Linked DNA regions of Homo sapiens: region 1 is linked to region 2. The links come from fine-mapping of genetic effects on gene expression. Tissue or cell type: testis. Region 2 holds a variant in brackets; the other region holds the start of a gene. All regions are shown on one strand. Distances are between the middles of the regions.

Region 1 (8,353 bases), 55 kb before region 2:
TCTCTACTCTATGACTCCTTGCTTAGTTTGCTCCAGCCACCCCAGCCTCATTGCATTCCTCCAACACACCATGCCTGTTCCAGCCTCAGGGCCTTTGCACCTGCTGGGCCTTCTGCCCGGAGCACTCTTCCTCCAGATGTCTAGCTGCTCCTTCAAGCCTCATCCTTGTCCCCATCACCTTCTCCCTGCGGGGACATCAGCTCCGTAAGGCTTCCTGTGGCTGTCTGTCCCCAGTGCCTCCCACTGCAGACACTTCCTAAGTCTGTGCTGAATGAACAAATGACAGACAGACAGACAGACAGGGGTGGGAGGAAAGTGGGGCCAGGCACAGGGCAGAAGGGGTCCCCAGGGCATAGCTGATAGGAAATGATCACTCTTCAGACACAGTGTCATGGGACCCTGGATTAAAATCTGTCTCTGGGAGTCCAGGAGGGGGTAGGGAGGGAAAGCTGAGCTGAGCTCCAGGCGGTTCAGTGTGTGTGTGTGTGACAGCATCCTATTAACAAAGGTATAAAGTCCAGACTCAGGGAGGGGAAGGTCTCTTCTATGCTACTCTGTTTTTTGTTTGTTTGTTTTTGAGACAGTGTCTTGCTCTGTCACCCAGGCTGGAGTGCAGTAGTGCAGTAGTGCGATCTTGGCTCACTGCAACCTCTGCCTCCTGGGTTCAAGCAATTCTCCTGTCTCAACCTCCCAAGTAGCTGGGATTACAGGAGCATGCCACCACACAGGGTTAATTTTTATATTTTTAGTAGAGACGGGGTTTCACTATATTGGCCAGGCTGGTCTCGAACTCCTGACCTCAGGTGATCTGCCCGCCTCGGCCTCTCAAAGTGCTGGGATTACAGGCGTGAGCCACCGCGCCGGGCCTCTCTATGCTACTCTGGTCAGAGCCATGATGGGTCTGAGGGGCCTATTCAAGGATGGCAAAGAAAAGCCTGCGCTTGGCCAGGCACAGTGGCTCATGCCTATAATCCTAGTGCTTTGGGAGGTTGAGGCTGGAGGCTCGCTTGAGGCCAGGAGTTCAAGACCAGCCCGGGCAACATAGTAAGACCCCTGTCCATGTGTATAAAATTTTTTTTTAAGGATTAGCTAGGCCTGGTGGTGCATGCCTGTGGTCCCAGCTCTCAGGAGGCTGAGGTTGAGCTCAGGAGGTCGAGGCTGCAGTGAGTTATGATCATGCCACTGCACTCCAACCTGAGCGACAGAGCAAGATTCTGCCTTTGAAAGAAAGAAAGAGGCCGAGTGCAGTGGCTCATGCCTGTAATCCCAGTACTTTAGGAGGCTGAGGCGTTTGAGCTCAATAGTTTCAGACCAGCCTGGGCAACTGGCAAAACTCTACAAAATCACTACAAAAAAATGCAAAAATTAGCCAGGTGTGGTGGCTTATGCCTGTAGTCCCAGGCTGATTGCTTAAACTTGGGAGGTGGAGGTTGCAGTGGGCGAAGATCGCACCACTGCACCCCAGCCTGGGCAACAGAGCCAGAACTTGTCTTGAAAAAACAAAACAAAAACAAGAAAGAAAAGCAAAGAAAAGAGCTTGTACTGAAAGGCATGGGGAACAGAACAGGGTTGGTAAAGAGCAGCCACAAAAGAAAGTGAGACGGGCTGGGCGCAGTGGCTCACACCTGTAATCCCAGCACTTTGGGAGGCCGAGGCAGGTGCATCACCTGAGGTCAGGAGTTCGAGACCAGCCTGGCCAACATGGTGAAACCCACCCCCCTTCATCTCTACTAATAATATAAAAATTAGCCAGGTGTGGTGGTTCGCACCTGTAATCCCAGCTACTCAGGAGGCTGAGGCAGGAGAATTGCTTGAACCCGGGAGGTGGAGGTTGCAGTGGGCCGAGATCGCACCATTGCACTCCAGCCTGGGCGACAAGAACGAAACTCCATTCCAAAAAATAAAAAAAATAATAATTAAAAAAACAGTAAGATGCCTGCTACTGAATTATCAAACAGGGGTTTCAAGACCCTTTCCTCCTATGACAGCCCCAGCTCCCTTGGCTCCCAGCTTGCCACCCACTCCTGGTTTTCCTTCTGCCCTCTTTCTGCTGTCTCCCAAGCTCCCAGCTTGCTTTAAAGCCCATCCTACGCCGTACCACCTGGGTGTCTAGCAGCATGGCAATTTCCAGATGCTGAGAACAGATTGCTGACTTACACCTAAAGCTTCTCCCCCATGAGCAGCTGCTCCCTCCCCCGGCCTCTCCATATCTCTCCAAGATCCACCCAAGTCTCACCCGTCCACGCCTTCACCTGGTCCAGCCCCACCATTACTCCCCTGGCCTGGTGCAGTCCCTTCCATCCTGGTCTCCAGGCTCCTGCCTTCGACCCCTGCAGTCTGTTCCCTGAGCTCTAAATAATGCCAAATGCTTGTTCAAGGCTGGCAGGCTGGCTCTGCCCTTCTTCCTCTCCCCTCTTCTGGATCTTACAACCCTGGCTTTGTGGTTGTTTCATCCAAGCACCCTGGCAGTTTCTCTCCTCTGCAATTTGCCCACTGGTCTCTTGGCCTGGTTAACTCCTCCTTACCCTTAGCGACCCAGCCAACTGTCACCTCCTCCAGGAGGCCTTCCCTGACTCCTCCTTAGGCTGAGTCAGGTGACTCCTCTGGACTCCCCCTGACCCCAGGCATGACTCTGAATTTTTTTTTTTTTTTTTTTTTTTGGAGATAGTCTCACTTTGTTGCCCAGGCTGGAGTGCAGTGGCGCGATCTCGGCTCACTGCAAATTCTGCCTCCCAGGTTCAAGAGATTCTCCTGCCTCAGTCTCCCATGCAGCTGAGATTACAGGTACATGCCACCACGCCCGGCTAATTTTTGTATTTCTAGTAGAGATGGGGTTTCACCATGTTGGCCAGGCTGCTCTCGAACTCCTGACCTTAGGTGATCTGCCTGCCTCAGCTTCCCAAAGTGCTGGGATTACAGGCGTGAGCCACCACGCCCAGCCCCTCCGTGATATTTTAATAGCCTCCAGCTCTGTGATATTCTCGTGATATTTTAATAGCCTGTTTAGCACGTATTCACAACCAGCCAGGCACTGTGTTCAGCTCTTTACCTATAGGTCATGACTGCTATTATCCCATTTTACAGGTGGAGAAACTGAAGCAGGAAGTGGTGAAGTCAGTAGCCCGGAGGCCCTCAACTCAAAGTGGCAGGACAGGGCTGGGGGGTGGTCAGGCTCAAGCCCAGCCAGTCGGAAAGGGAGAAGCTTGTGGTGCTCAGAGAAGGGGACAGGGCAGCGAGCTCCCAAGGCACCTGCCTTTCTGTGCCATCCCACGGGTGGGAGGAGGGAACCTGGGCCCACTTCTGCTGCCAACTACAGGCATCCCAGTGGCTCCTGAGCCAAGACATTCTGTGCCACGCACTGGGTCAACCGCTTTATTCAACCTGCAGACAGCCCTGGGTCAGGAGGTGGACACTGTTGTGAATTTCTCAGAGGAGAAATGGAAGCCCATACATCCCCCTGAACTCCCACCGGGCGTTAGAACCCTCTCCGGTTCCTTAGGGGTGTGGCTGCCACCGAGATCTGCCTAGCCTCGGCTTTCATCGATCCATGAACACTCCCAGGCTCAGATACTACTGACCCATTTTACAGATGGGTAAACTGAAGCTCAGAAACCTTTCCCTGGGGGCCCTACAGCCAGTTCAACGACCAAGGCCGCCCCCCACCCCCCACACCCCAGGCTCAAAGTACCTCTGCTGGCAGTGGGTGAGCTGGAAAAACAGGTAAGGAAAGTCCTCAATGCCTCTTCCTCCACGCCTGGCTGGGCCTGCTGGGGCCCAGGTGCACTGAATGAGGCTTCTAATCAGTCCCCCAGCTCCACTTCTGTGTTTATTCACAGCAGCTGCTCCTGGAAGGCAGACCCATTTGAGGCTGGGGGAGGCCGAGGGCTTCAAAGACAATTCCACAGTCCAGGAACCCTATCCCCATATAACAGACCCAGGTCGCCCCAGTGGGGTCACCCTGGCCTCTGCGCTCAGATGCCTGAGACCTTGCCTGAGCTCAGACTGGAGTCGATGGGAGCATTCCCCCATCTGGTAGGTTTTGCAAACCACAACAGCCTCTCCCCCTGCCCACCTTCCTGTGTCCCCCAGAGCAGCTTCTCCTCAAGTCTCCCAACCCAGCAATGAAAGCCTCTTCTATATACTCCTAACTACCCAGGAGAAACATCGGTCCCCCACGCTCCACTTGCAAACAGACAGAATTAGACGATGTTACTCTGCCAAAGCGAATTTTCAGTTCACCCACTTCCTATCACACCTTCCAGCCAGGTCAAGCCAGAAGCCCCCTTCCAAGTATCCCCATCTCTCCTACCCACAGCGGCTACGGGATGTTCTTAAGACACAATCCGATCACGCCATGCACCTGCTGTTCCAAGCCTCCCTGGTCCCCACCGCCCCGAGAACGGGTTCCACACTCTCCTCGCCGCTTCCCAGGCCCCGGCCAACCTCTCTCCACCTCAGACCCTCCCTCTCCGCGTTTCAGCCAGGCTGGCCTCTTTTCTGCTCCGCACACACTCCCGGCTAGGCCCTGGGCCTAAAAAGCCCTCGCTGGCTGGTCCAACCAGGCCAAATGACATTATCCCCGCCTGGGCACCTCCACCTCACCCCGGCCGCCTGATGGGTTAGCTCGGGCTTGGAATGACGTGTTTAAGCGGTTCTCAGAAGCCGTCTACGCGGCCGGGCTGCGGACTCCGAGGCCAGGGCCCCAGCTGCGTCCCCAGCCCTGGCACGTCGGGGAAACGGGGCGCTCCCCCGGCTCACACATCCGGATTCCCCCGCGTCACGAGGCCAGGATCGCCCCTACTCGCTCCAGCCCGTTTCACAGCCGCGTCCTCGGGCACCCGTTGCGCCCCGGCCCTCGTGGGGGAGCGCGGATAGCTCGGGGAGACGGCCATGATGGGAAGCCCCGAGGGGGACAGTCCCCGGCGGGGTGATGGGGGCTGGAGCCCAGCTGCGAGTGGGGGCCGGGCTGGGGCCGCCATGGCCGCGGAGGCGGGGCCGGGGACCGCCGTGAGGGTGGCGTTCGGGGCGGTGTTCGCGGCGCGGGGTGCTCGCTTACCTGGGGGTGCAGGCGGCCGGGCGCACCGAGGGCCGGCGGCGGGGCTGGGGACGGCGCGCCTAGCGGGCTACCCGGAGCAGCTGCAGACACGCGCCGCCCGCCCCAGGCAGCCGGACTCTGCTCCTGGCCGGGCCTCGGCCCCCAGCAGGGGAAAAAAGGCTTGAGTGGGGGGAGCCCGGGGCGGGGCCGTGGGGGCGGGGCCTGGGCGGGGCACGCGCCCCGGAACGGTGGGGCCTGGCGCGGGGCTGGGGCCCTGGAGAGGCGGGGCCTGGCGCGGGGCGGGGGACTTGGAGGGGCAGGGCCTGGAGCGGGCGCCGGGTCCTCCAGGCGCTTGCCCCCCTCGACGCAACTAGGCCTCTCCCTGGCCCCCGACCCCGCACCCGCACCCCATCCCCGCCCCCGTCCCCGCCCCCCCATTCTCGCCCCCGCCCCCGTTCCCGCTCCGCCCATCTCTGCCCCGCGGCGCGCCTGGCCCGGGTCCAGCCTAGCGTTTCTAGTCTGCGCCTTATCTCTCCCCTTTGAACCCAGTATTGTCCGCTGCGCGCTCCGTCCGGCCCCGGCTTCACCCCTGTTCGCTGTCTGTCTCCCCGGCCCCCTCCCAGGTCCCCTCTTCTGCCCGAGATGCTCTGGCTCTGCTCATCTGTCCACACCCCCACACTCCCGGGGCGCCCTGAGCCTCTGGGGCGCGCAGTTGGATGGTGCACAGGGGAGGCCCAGATTTCTCCAGGCCTCAGCGGCCACCCTGGGTACCCCGAGTCTGGGGCCCTGTTGGAGGGCCAGTCCAGGGGTTCGCCCGAGGCGCGCGCGGGGGCCAACCGAGGCGGTGAGGGCACCGGGCAAAGGCTGCGATTTGGTGGGGTGCAGGGGTCAGGCGACAGAGCTGGGGAGATAAGATGGGAGATAGGCCGGGTGGGTGGTGGCGCAGCCCTGGTTTTGGCTGAGGGCAGCAGCAGTGGGGGCTGGGTCCCCCGCTTGCCTGGTAGAACCGAAAATGACCCAGTCTCAGCAGCGCGCAGGGGCAGGGAGCCTGGGCGATCCCTGAACAGAGGACAGCCCCAGGGGTTTTCATAGTCGCTGGCCCACCGCATGTACTCTGGGCAAGTGGCTTCGCCTTTGGACAATAAGCCTCTGTAAAATGGGGATAATAAACCTTTCTCTGACTCAGCTCAGCAGACCCAAGACCCATGGGGTGAAGTTGGGGCCTCCCTGCCACAGGGCCCTAGGCAAGCTGAGATTTGATTTCCTCACACAGACAGGGGCGCGGGGGGCGGGGCGGTCAGGGAGGCAGGAGACCTCTGTTGCAAGTGTGGAAGAACCTGTCCCTCCAAGTTCAGACTCCTGGCGTTTGCACTTGGCCTTCCCTCTGCTACACTGTTTCTCTTTTCTTTTTTCTTTTTCTTTTTTTTTTTTTGAGACGGAGTCTTGCATTGTGGCCCGGGCTGGACTGCAATGGCATGATCTCGGCTCACTGCAACTTCTGCATCCTGGTTTCATTCGATTCTCCTGCCTCAGCCTCCCGAGTAGCTAGGATTACAGGCGCCCACAACACCCGGCTAATTTATATATATATATATTTTTTTTTTTGGAGAGACGGGGGTTTCACAATGTTGGCCAGACTGATCTCAAACTCCTGACCTCGTGATCCACCAGCCTTGGCTTCCCAAAGTGCTGGGATTACAGGCGTGAGCCAGCATGCCCGACCTTCTCTTTTCTTTTTTTAAAAAAATCTGTTAGAGGCTGGGTGCGGTGGCTCACACCTGTAATCCCAGCACTTTGGGAGGCTGAGGCGGGTGGATCACCTGAGGTCAGGAGTTTGAGACCAGCCTGGCCAACGTGGCAAAATCCCATCTCTACTAAAAACACAAAAATTAGCCTGGAGTAGAATTACGTGAACCCAGGAGGCAGAGGTTGCAGTGCGTGGAGATCGTGCCACTGCACTCCAGCCTGGACAACAGAGTGAGACTCTATCAAAAAAAATTTCGTTAAAGATGGGAGTCTCACTCTGTTGCCCAGGCTAGAATGGAATGTCATGATCCCAGCTCATTGCAGCCTGGGACTCCAGGGCTCAAGCAGTCCTCTCACCTCAGCCTCCAGAGGAGCTAGGACTATAGATGCCTGCCACCATGCCCGGCTAATTTTTTTTTGTTTTAAATAAAAAAACTTTGGTAGGCAGGGTGTGGTGGCTCATGCCTGTAATCCCAGCACTTTGGGAGGCCGAGGCAGGTGGATCACGTGAGGTCAGGAGTTCGAGACCAGCCTGGCCAATATGGCGAAACCCCTTCTCTACTAAAAATACCAAAGTTAGCTGGGCATGGTGTTGCGCACCTGTAATCCCAGCTACTCGAGAGTCTGAGGCAGGAGAATCACTTGAACCCAGGAGGCGGAGGTTGCAGTGAGTCAAAATCGTGCCGCTGCACTCCAGCCTGGGTGACAGAGCAAGACTCTGTCTCAATTAAAAAAAACAAAAAAAAAAACTTTGGTAGAGGTGGGGTCTTGCTATGTTGCCCAGGCTGGTCTGGAACGCTTAGGCTCAAGTGATCCTTCCGCCTCCGCTTTCCAAGGTGCTGGGATTACAGGCAAGAGCCACTGTGCCCCAGCCTCTTTCCCTTTTCAAATGCATACATACTTCTCCCTGAGCCTCAGTCCCCTCCTCCTTCCTCCATTGCCTGCTTTACCCCACCCCCACCATATTCACCTGTTTATTTTCTCCTCTCCTTCCCTCCAAGAGCTTGTTTGCACACCTGGAAAAGAAAGATAATAAAGCAACTCTTCTCAGTTGTTGTGACTAGGGAGTTATTGAATATCACATGTCGCATACTCCAGGGTGCTCAGAGCATGGCATTTGTTTGTATTAATAATAATATATGACCGGGCTTGGTCGCTCACACCTGTAATCCTAGCACTTTGGAAGGCTGAGGTGAGTGGATTGCTGGAGCTCAGGAGTTTGAGACAAGCCTCGGTAACATGGCAAGAGCCCCATCTCTACCAAAAATACAAAAATTAGCCAAGCGTGGTGGTGTGCTCCTATAGTCCCAGCTACTCAGAAGGCTGAAGTGGGAGGATCACTTGAGCCCAGAAGTCAAGGCTGAGGTGAACTATGATCATGCCACTGAACTCCAGCCTGGGCAACAGAGTGAGATCCTGTCTCAATTAAAAAAAAAAAAAAGAGACACCAGCCTGGGCAACATAGTGAGACCCCGGTATCTACAAACAATAACGATAATATAATACAGGATACATGGTGGAATGGTGGAGTCCACGCCCCAGTGGAGAAGCCCCAGGACTCCGGAGAAGTGG
Region 2 (8,353 bases):
AATGACCCCATCCTCTCTTTTTGGTCTATGTATTTATGAATATCTACCTTCGTTTAATGAACAAAGAGAACAACCTGGTAGATTGTTAACTTGAAGAATGACCAAAGTAAGAGGAAATAAGAGAAAAAGAGAGGGTAGTTCAACCCCTGATGACTGTTGAAAAAAATAGTAACTTCTTTTTCTAAATCAGTGCTGTCCAATAGAAATATAAATGCAAGGTCAGGCTCAGTGACTCATGTCCATAATCCTAGCACTTTGGGAGGCTGAGGCAGGAGGATCGCTTGGGCCCAGGAGTTTGAGATCAGCTGGGACAACATGATGAAACCTTGTGTTTACAAAACATACAAAAGTTAGCCGGGTGTGGTGGCGGCACTTGTAATCCCACCTACTCGGGAGGCTGAGGTAGGAGGATTGCTTGAGCCTGGGAGGTTGAGGCTGTAGTGAGCCATGATCACACCACTGCATTCCAGCCTGGGCAACAGAACGTGATCTTGCCTAATAAAAAAGAAATAAAATAAAAACTAATGCAACCGACATAGACAATCTTAACTCTTTTAGAACCCACATTTTATTTCATATATATTTACTTATTTATATATATATTTTTGAGACGGAGTCTCACTCTGTTGCCTAGGCTGGAGTGCAGTGGTACGATCTTAGTTCACTGCAACCTCCGCCTCCCAGTTTCAAGCGATTCTCCTGCCTCAGCCTCCCGAATAGCTGGGATTTCAGGTCCCTGCCACTATGCCCAGCTAATTTTTTGTATTTTTAGTAGAGATGGGGTTTCACCATGTTGGCCAGGCTGGTTTCAAACTCCTAACCTCATGATCCGCCCACCTGGGCCTCCCAAAGTGCTGGGATTACAGGCGTAAGCCACCGAGTGGCCTAGAACCCACATTTTAAAAAGTAAAAAGAAACAGATGAAATTTTAATAATATAATTTACTTAGTCCAGTGTACCCAAAATATCAGCATTTCACCCCTGTCATTGCTATTTGAGGCATCTTACATTCTTTCTCTTGTATGAAGTGCTTGCGATTCCGTGTGGATTTCACACTTATATCTCCATAGAACTGGTTCAAATGCTCAAAAGCTCCCTGTGACCAGTGGCCACCTAACAATCTATGGGAAGACTTGAGTGCCCCCTAGTGACAGATTTGATTAACTTCCTCTTGGCAATGAGGTCCTCAAAGGTAAATCAGATGGCGTCGCTCCCTGCCTAGAACCCACCGTGGCTCCCTGCTGCCGCCAGGTCATGTCCACGCTCCTGGTTTTCAAGACTCCTTTCAATCTGAGTCCTGCTCGTCTCTCCACAAGCAACTTCCACTCCTTCCTTCCGGTCATATCAGATTTGCTCACCATTCATTCATTTACTGATCCATCGATTCAGCGTTTATTGAGTGCCAATGAAGGCCCTGGCACATGTGCGTTTTCTGAAGATCAGTGATATTCAGGTTTCTGGGTCTGACAATTTGCACTTAACCAACTTTATTTTTGAGTGTCAGTCTTCTTGTCTGACTTAACTAATGGCACCCTTAAGGTTTCAGAGGGCAGAGTGGAAAGCTGCAAGTGCACCCTTAGCCCGCAAGGATGAGACCAGAGGGAGAGAGGCTGGGCGGGCATTGGGGCCCCAGATAAATGGGTGCAGATGGCAGAACTGGCAGTGGGTGCCAGAGTCCTCTCTTCTCCCAGCAGGGCTAATCCTAATCCAGTTGAAGTCTGACCTCAAAGCCCACCTTGGCATCTCAAAATGCTGGGATTACAGGCTTGAGCCACTGCATCCCGGCCTCTCTTGCTTTCTTTCCCTCCCTCCCTCCCTCCCTTCTTTCCTTCCTTCCTTCCTTCCTTCCTTCCTTCCTTCCTTCCTTCCTTCCTTCCTTCCTTCCTTCCTCTCTTTCTCCTCTCTCTCTCTCTCTTTCTCCATTCTTTTGACAGAGTCTCACTCTGTCGCCCAGGCTGGAGTGCAGTGGCATGATCTCTGCTCACTGCAACCTCCGCCTCCCGGGTTCAAGCAATTCTCTTCTTCAGCCTCCCAAGTAACTGGGATTACAGGTGCCCACCACCACGCCTGGCTAATTTTTTTTGTATTTTTAGTAGAGATGGGGTTTCACCATCTTGGCCAGGCTGGTCTTGAACTCCTGACCTCATGATCCACCTGCCTCAGCCTCCCAAAGTGCTGGGATTACAGACGTGAGCCACTGCGCATCTTCTCTCCTCTCCTCTTTCTTCCTTTTTCTTCTCTCTCTTTCTCTATCTCTCTGTCTTTCTTTTTATTTGAAAGGGTCTTGCTCTGTCTCCCAGTCCGGAGTGCAGTGATGTGATCTCGGATCACTGTAGCCTCTACAGTGACATCTGGGGCTCCCAGACATCTGGGGCTCAAGTGATCTCATCTCAGTCTCCTGAGTAGCTGGGACTACAGACTCATGCCACCAGGCCTGGCTAATCTTTGTGTTGTTTGTAGAGACGGAGCTTGCCATGTTGCCCCAGCTGGTCTCTAACTCTTGCACTCAAGGGATCTGCCTGCCTTGGCCTCCCAAAGTGCTGGGATTACAGGTGTGATCCCCCGCTCCCGGCTCGACATGGAAATATTGCCAAGATGTAATAAGAAGTTAAAAGAGGCTGGGCGTGGTGGCTCACGCCTGTGATCCCACCACTTTCGGAGACCGAGGCAGGCAGATCATGAGGTCAGGAGATAGAGACCATCTTGGCCAACATGGTGAAACCCCGTCTCTATTAAAATACAAAAAAAAAAAAAAAAAATTGCCAGGTGTGGTGGCGTGTGCCTGTAGTCCCAGCTACTTGGGAGGCTGAGGCAGGGGAACTGCTTGAACAGGGGAGGCGGAAGTTGCAGTGAGCCGAGATCGCGCCACTGCACTGCAGCCTGGGTGACAGAGAGAAACTCTGTCACAAAAAAAAAAAAAAAAAAAAGTAAAATAAAATAAAGGGCCACCTAGTGTGTGATTCCATTTACGTGAAACGTCTAGGCCAGGCACGGTGGCTCATGCCTGTAATCCCAGCACTTTGGGAGGTCAAGGCAGATGGATCACTTGAGGCCAAGAGTTCAAGACCAGCCTGGCTAACATGATGAAATCCCGTTTCTACTAAAAATACCAAAAAAAAAAAAAATAGCCAGACGCGGTGCCGTGTGCACCTGTAATCCCTGCTACTCGGAAGGCTGAGGCAGGGAAACATTCGAACCTGGGAGGTGGAGGTTGCAGTAAGCCAAGATCATACTACCGCACTCCAGCCTGGGTGACAGAGGGAGACTTCATCTCAAAATAAAATAAAATAAAATAAAATAAAATAAAATAAAATAAAATAAATACGTGCAATGTCCGGAACAGGCAAATCCACAGAGAATAGAAAGTGGATTAGTGTTTGCCAGGGACTGGGGTATGGGGAATGGGGAGCAACTGCTAATGGGGACAGGATTTCATTCTGGGGTGATGAGTACGTTTTGGAACTAGATAGAGGGGGTGGCTGCACATACTGCGTGTACTGAACGCTACTGAATTGTACACTTGAACATAGTAAGTGCTATGTTGTGTGAAATTGATCTCAGTAAAAGAAAACAGTAAAAAGAAGATGGTAATTGAGAGGGATTGATTTAGTTTGCAAGAAAAAAATATATTTTTTTTACAAAGATGAGAAAAAGCAAATACAGAACAAGATACAAAGGTGCTAACATTTGTGTTTATTAGAAAGAGAAAGAGGCCAGGCACCGTGGCTCACGCCTGTAATCCCAGCACTTTGGGAGGCGGAGGCGGGCAGATCACATGGTCAGGAGTTCGAGACCAGCCTGGCCAATATGGTGAAACCCCGTCTCTACTAAAACTACAAAAATTAGGGTGTGGGGTGGGCGCCTGTACTCCCAGCTACTCAGGAGGCTGAGGCAGGAGAATCGCTTAAACTTGGGAGGTGGAGGTTGCAGTGAGCTGAGAGTGTACCACTGCACTCCAGCCTGGGCGACAGAGCGAGACTCTGTCTGAACAAAAAAAGAAAAAAAAAGAAAGAAAGAAAGAAAGAAAGAAAGAAAGAAAGAGAAAGAGGCCAGGTGTGACGGCTCATGCCTGTAATCTCAGCACTTTGGGAGGATGAGTTGGGAGGATCACTTGATCCCAGAGTTCGAGACCAGCCTGGGCAACATAGTGAGACTCTATCTCTAAAAAAAAAAATTTTTTTAAATTAGACAGGTAGTATGTGCCTGTAGTCCTAGCTACTCTGGAGGCTGAGGTGGGAGGATTGCTTAAGCCCAATTCGAGGCTGCAGTGAGCTGTTATCTTCCCCACTGCACTTTAGCCTGGGTGACAGAGGGAGACCCTGTTTTTTTGTTTGTTTGTTTGTTTTTAATTATTTTTACAAAGAGGAAATAGGGCAAATACAGAACAATGTATAAAGGTGCAAACATGTGTGTTTATTAGAAAGAGAAATAATATATTGTATATGGACCCTAGACAGGTCCCCCAGCTAGAACATCAAGGCAATGGGGTGAGGGTGTGGCTGGGGGCCCAAGGCCACGGGGAAGGTTCCAGCTTTGTGGCCTGGGTTCAGATTTGCCTGTATTCTTTCCTGGTGGTGGGGTCCCAGTGGGCGATGTGGTGGCTCTGTGCCTCAGTTTCCTCATCTGTGTAATGGGATGATATCAGAGCCTGTCTTCAGGGTCTCTTGTGAGGATCCAGCTTGATCTCTTCCTCAGAGCTTTCCTGGGTCCTCTGCGGCTTCCCTCCCCGCTCCAAGCCTCATTCCTGGGCACGTGGCCAAACTCCTGGCGTTGTATGCAATGCTTTGACTCCCAGCTGCTTCCTGTGCTTATACAAAGAGGGCTCTGTCCCCAAGCCACCCTGGCCTAGGCTGGCCCAGCGCAC[T/C]CCACACACCATAGACTGCAGGCATCTCCCCGTCCCTCCTCCCATCTCCTTGTCCCCAGCCTTGACCCTGTGCTCCTGGGCACACCCTGCCCACTCCTGTCTCCATGCCTTCCTCGAGCTCATGCTAATGAACATCTGGGGTCTGCTGGCTCTGGGTGCACACAGTCAAGTCCCGCCTATGAGGGGGGGCTCCATGGCTGCTCAGAAAGTCAAACGGAGGGTGGGGCTGGCGTGACTCACAGTGACCTTAACGGGATGACAGTGGCAGCAGCGGGGGGGGACAGTTCTGGGGGACATTAATAGTGTGACAATGTGACAGCAACAGGTGACAACGTCACAGGAACTGGGAATGATGGGAAGGCAACAGGTGACAGCAACAGGTGACACTGTAATTTTAAAACCCACTAGGGGCCAGGTGCAGTGGCTCACACCTGTAATCCCAGCACTTTGGGAGGCCAAGGCGGACATATCATGAGGTCAGGAATTCGAGACCAGCCTGACCAACATGGTGAAACCCCATCTCTACTAAAAATACAAAAAAAAAAAAAAAAAAATAGCCGGGTGTGGTGGCACACGCCTGTAATCCCAGCTACTTAGGAGGCTGAGGCAGGAGAATTCCTTGAACCCAGGAGGAGGAGGTTGCAGTGAGCCAAGATCCCACCACTGCACTCCAGCCTGGGTGACAGAGCAAGACTGCATCTCGGGGCGGGGGCGGTCCGGGGAGGACAAAAACCAAAAAAAGAGAACATCCACTAGGGGTCAGGCGCGGTGGCTCACACTTGTAATCCCCACAGTTTGGGACCGAGGCAGGTGGATCACCTGAGGTCTGGAGTTCAAGACCAGACTGGCCAATGTGGTGAAACCCCATCTCTACTAAAAATACAAAATTAGCCAGACGTGGTGGCAGGCACCTGTAATCCCAGCTACTCAGGAGGCTAAAACAGGAGAATCACTTAAACTGGGAGGTGGAGGTTGCAGTGAGCCGAGATGGCACCACTGCACTCCAGCCTGGGAGACAGAGCAAGACTCCATCTAAAAAAAAAAAAAAAAAAAAAAAAAGGAAAAAGAAAAAGAAAAAAAAAAAACTAGATGGTGATGTGTGCCTGTAGTCCCAGCTACTTGGGAGGCTGAGGCAGGAGAATGGCTTGAACCTGGGAGGCGGTTGCAGTGAGCTGAGATTGCACCACTGCACTCCAGCCTGGGCGACAGAGCAAGATTCTGTCAAAAAAACAAAAACAAAAACTTTAAAACACCAGATCCCCATTGGAGCCCCCATGGACCTCATTTTACTGAGGGTGGGGGGAACTGGTGCCAGCATCTCGGATCACTGAGCAGCATCAGGGCTTAGGGTGCCAGATGGTAATGAATGGTGTCTTCCTGGGGCCCGATCTGCATGTGATGTGTGTGAATGTGGTTGGCTGCGGCACCACCACGCTTGGTCACTCTTTCTGCTGAGCCCGGTTGTTGCTGATGCCAGTGAATTGTGATGTTAAGAACCCTGACATTCTGGGTAATGGTATGACCATGAGCCGGGGACTGTGTCACAGCAGAAAGGTGAAGGTGTAAAGGTGACAGGAGACATGCATGTCCCAGGTAGCGGAGCAACCAGAAAAGAGCAGGGTGTCACATGGACAGGTGACAATGAGACAGGGTCATAGGGACAAGTGACTGTAGAATAGGAACATGGTGATGATGATGATATACATACATATTTAGAGACAGGTTCATGATCTGTTATCCAGGCTGGAGTCCAGTGGCAACATCATAGCTCACTGCAGCCTCAAACTCCTGGGTTCAAGCACTCCTCCCACCTCAGCCTCCCAAGTAGCTGGGACTACAGGTACATGCCACCATGCCCAGCTAATTTTTCTATTTTTTTGTAGAGATGGGGTCTTGCTATGTTGCCCAGGCTTGCCTTGAACTCTTGGCCTCAAAGGATCCTCCACCTTGGCTTCCCAAAGTGTTGACATTACAGGCGTGAGGCACAGCGCCTGGCTGATGATGCAGTTTTGACGGAGAGACCATGCATGTGTTTTGTACAGTCCTGGGTGGGGGGACTGTGATATGCGGTAGGATTTAAAGCCTAAATGTCCCTTCTTTTTTTTTTTTTGAGATGGAGTCTCGCTCTGTCGCCTAGGCTAGAGCGCAGTGGCGTGATCTTGGCTCATTGCAGCCTCTGCCTCCCAGGTTCAAGCGATTCTCCTGCCTCAGCCTCCCAAGTACCTGGAACTACAGGTGTGTGCCCCCGTGCCTGGCTAATTTTTTTATTTATTTTTATTTTATTTATTTTTTTTTTGAGATGGAGTCTCGCTCTGTCGCCCATACTGGAGTGCAGTGGCACCATCTCGGCTCACTGCAAGCTCTGCCTCCCGGGTTCACACCATTCTCCTGCCTCAGCCTCCCGAGTAGCTGGAACTGCAGGCGCCCACCACCATGCCCAGCTAATTTTTTGTATTTTTAGTAGAGACGGGGTTTCACCATGTTAGCCAGGATGGTTTTGATCTCCTGAGCTCGTGATCCGCCCGCCTCAGCCTCCCAAAGTGCTGGGATTACAGGTGTGACCCACCGCGCCCAGCAATTTTTTATATTTTTAGTAGAGATGGGGTTTCACTGTGTTAGCCAGGATGGTCTTGATCTCCTGACCTCGTGATATGCCCAACTCGGCCTCCCAAAGCGTTGGGATTACAGGCGTGAGCCACCATGCCCAGCCTAAATGTCCCTTCTTAACAGTGTGATGTAATAAGGGTACAGTGGGGGGTGACACTGTCTGTGATACCACATCAATAACTGGCAATAACATAACAGACCAGGGTGGCACCATGGGAAGTCTGAAACTACAGCACGCGGTGTGGACAGTAGCTTGGGTTGGGGGCTGTGAACAACCAATGCCCACTATCTGCCGTTTTCGAGCACTTCAGTTGCGGTGACTTCCAACAGCTCCACATCCTGGTCTTGCCACACCCTCCGGCTTCCTTCTCCCCTCTCTTCTGGAGGGCAGGTAGGGAGACTTCTAGGACTGAGTCGCTCCCTGGCCCACAGTTCTTCCAGGAAAGCCCTCCTCCAGACTTAGCCATGGCAACAGTGGCTGTGCAGTGTCCCTGGGATGGGACAATCTCTCCCCACCTTTTGCACCTATGCTGGGCTGCTTCTAGGGCACCCGGTGCTTGTCCCCGTGCCCATGTAAGATTCATTTGTTGCAGAACAAATCTGGGTGGACCTTGGCAGAGGAGCCTGGAAAGAGGTGTCCAAGGTGGCCGGGGAAACTGGTTTGTCCACAATAGCCCCTGGGCCCACCCTCCAACAGGAACCCCACCCCCCTGTCTCTGCTGGGCCACCTCCATCCTGGGGTTCCCTCCCCAGTCCACCCTCCCCATGCCCCAGCACCCCACCTGACCCTTCTCACAGGGTCCACGGGCCCCTCCCTTGGCCAGGATGACTGGATCTTGTCCCTGAAGTCGGCGTCTGTCCCATGCTCCCCGAGCCCAGCCC

Evidence for each region.
Region 1: it holds the start of CERS4, and the variant in region 2 is fine-mapped to the expression of CERS4 in testis (GTEx, PIP above 0.99).

The regions. Positions count from the first base shown.
Region 1 is chr19:8,206,198-8,214,550 of GRCh38, reverse strand. CERS4 (ceramide synthase 4) reads right to left here and starts at 5,181. Exons shown (of 12, transcript NM_024552.3): 1 at 5,057-5,181; 2 at 3,689-3,845. RefSeq lists a silencer at 4,581-5,500.
Region 2 is chr19:8,151,461-8,159,813 of GRCh38, reverse strand. No RefSeq gene overlaps it. Among named protein-coding and RNA genes, the nearest start is that of FBN3, 6.0 kb to the right of the region's middle. RefSeq lists silencers at 955-1,249, 5,505-5,554, 5,675-5,724. The variant T/C (reference allele first, on the strand shown) is at 4,865.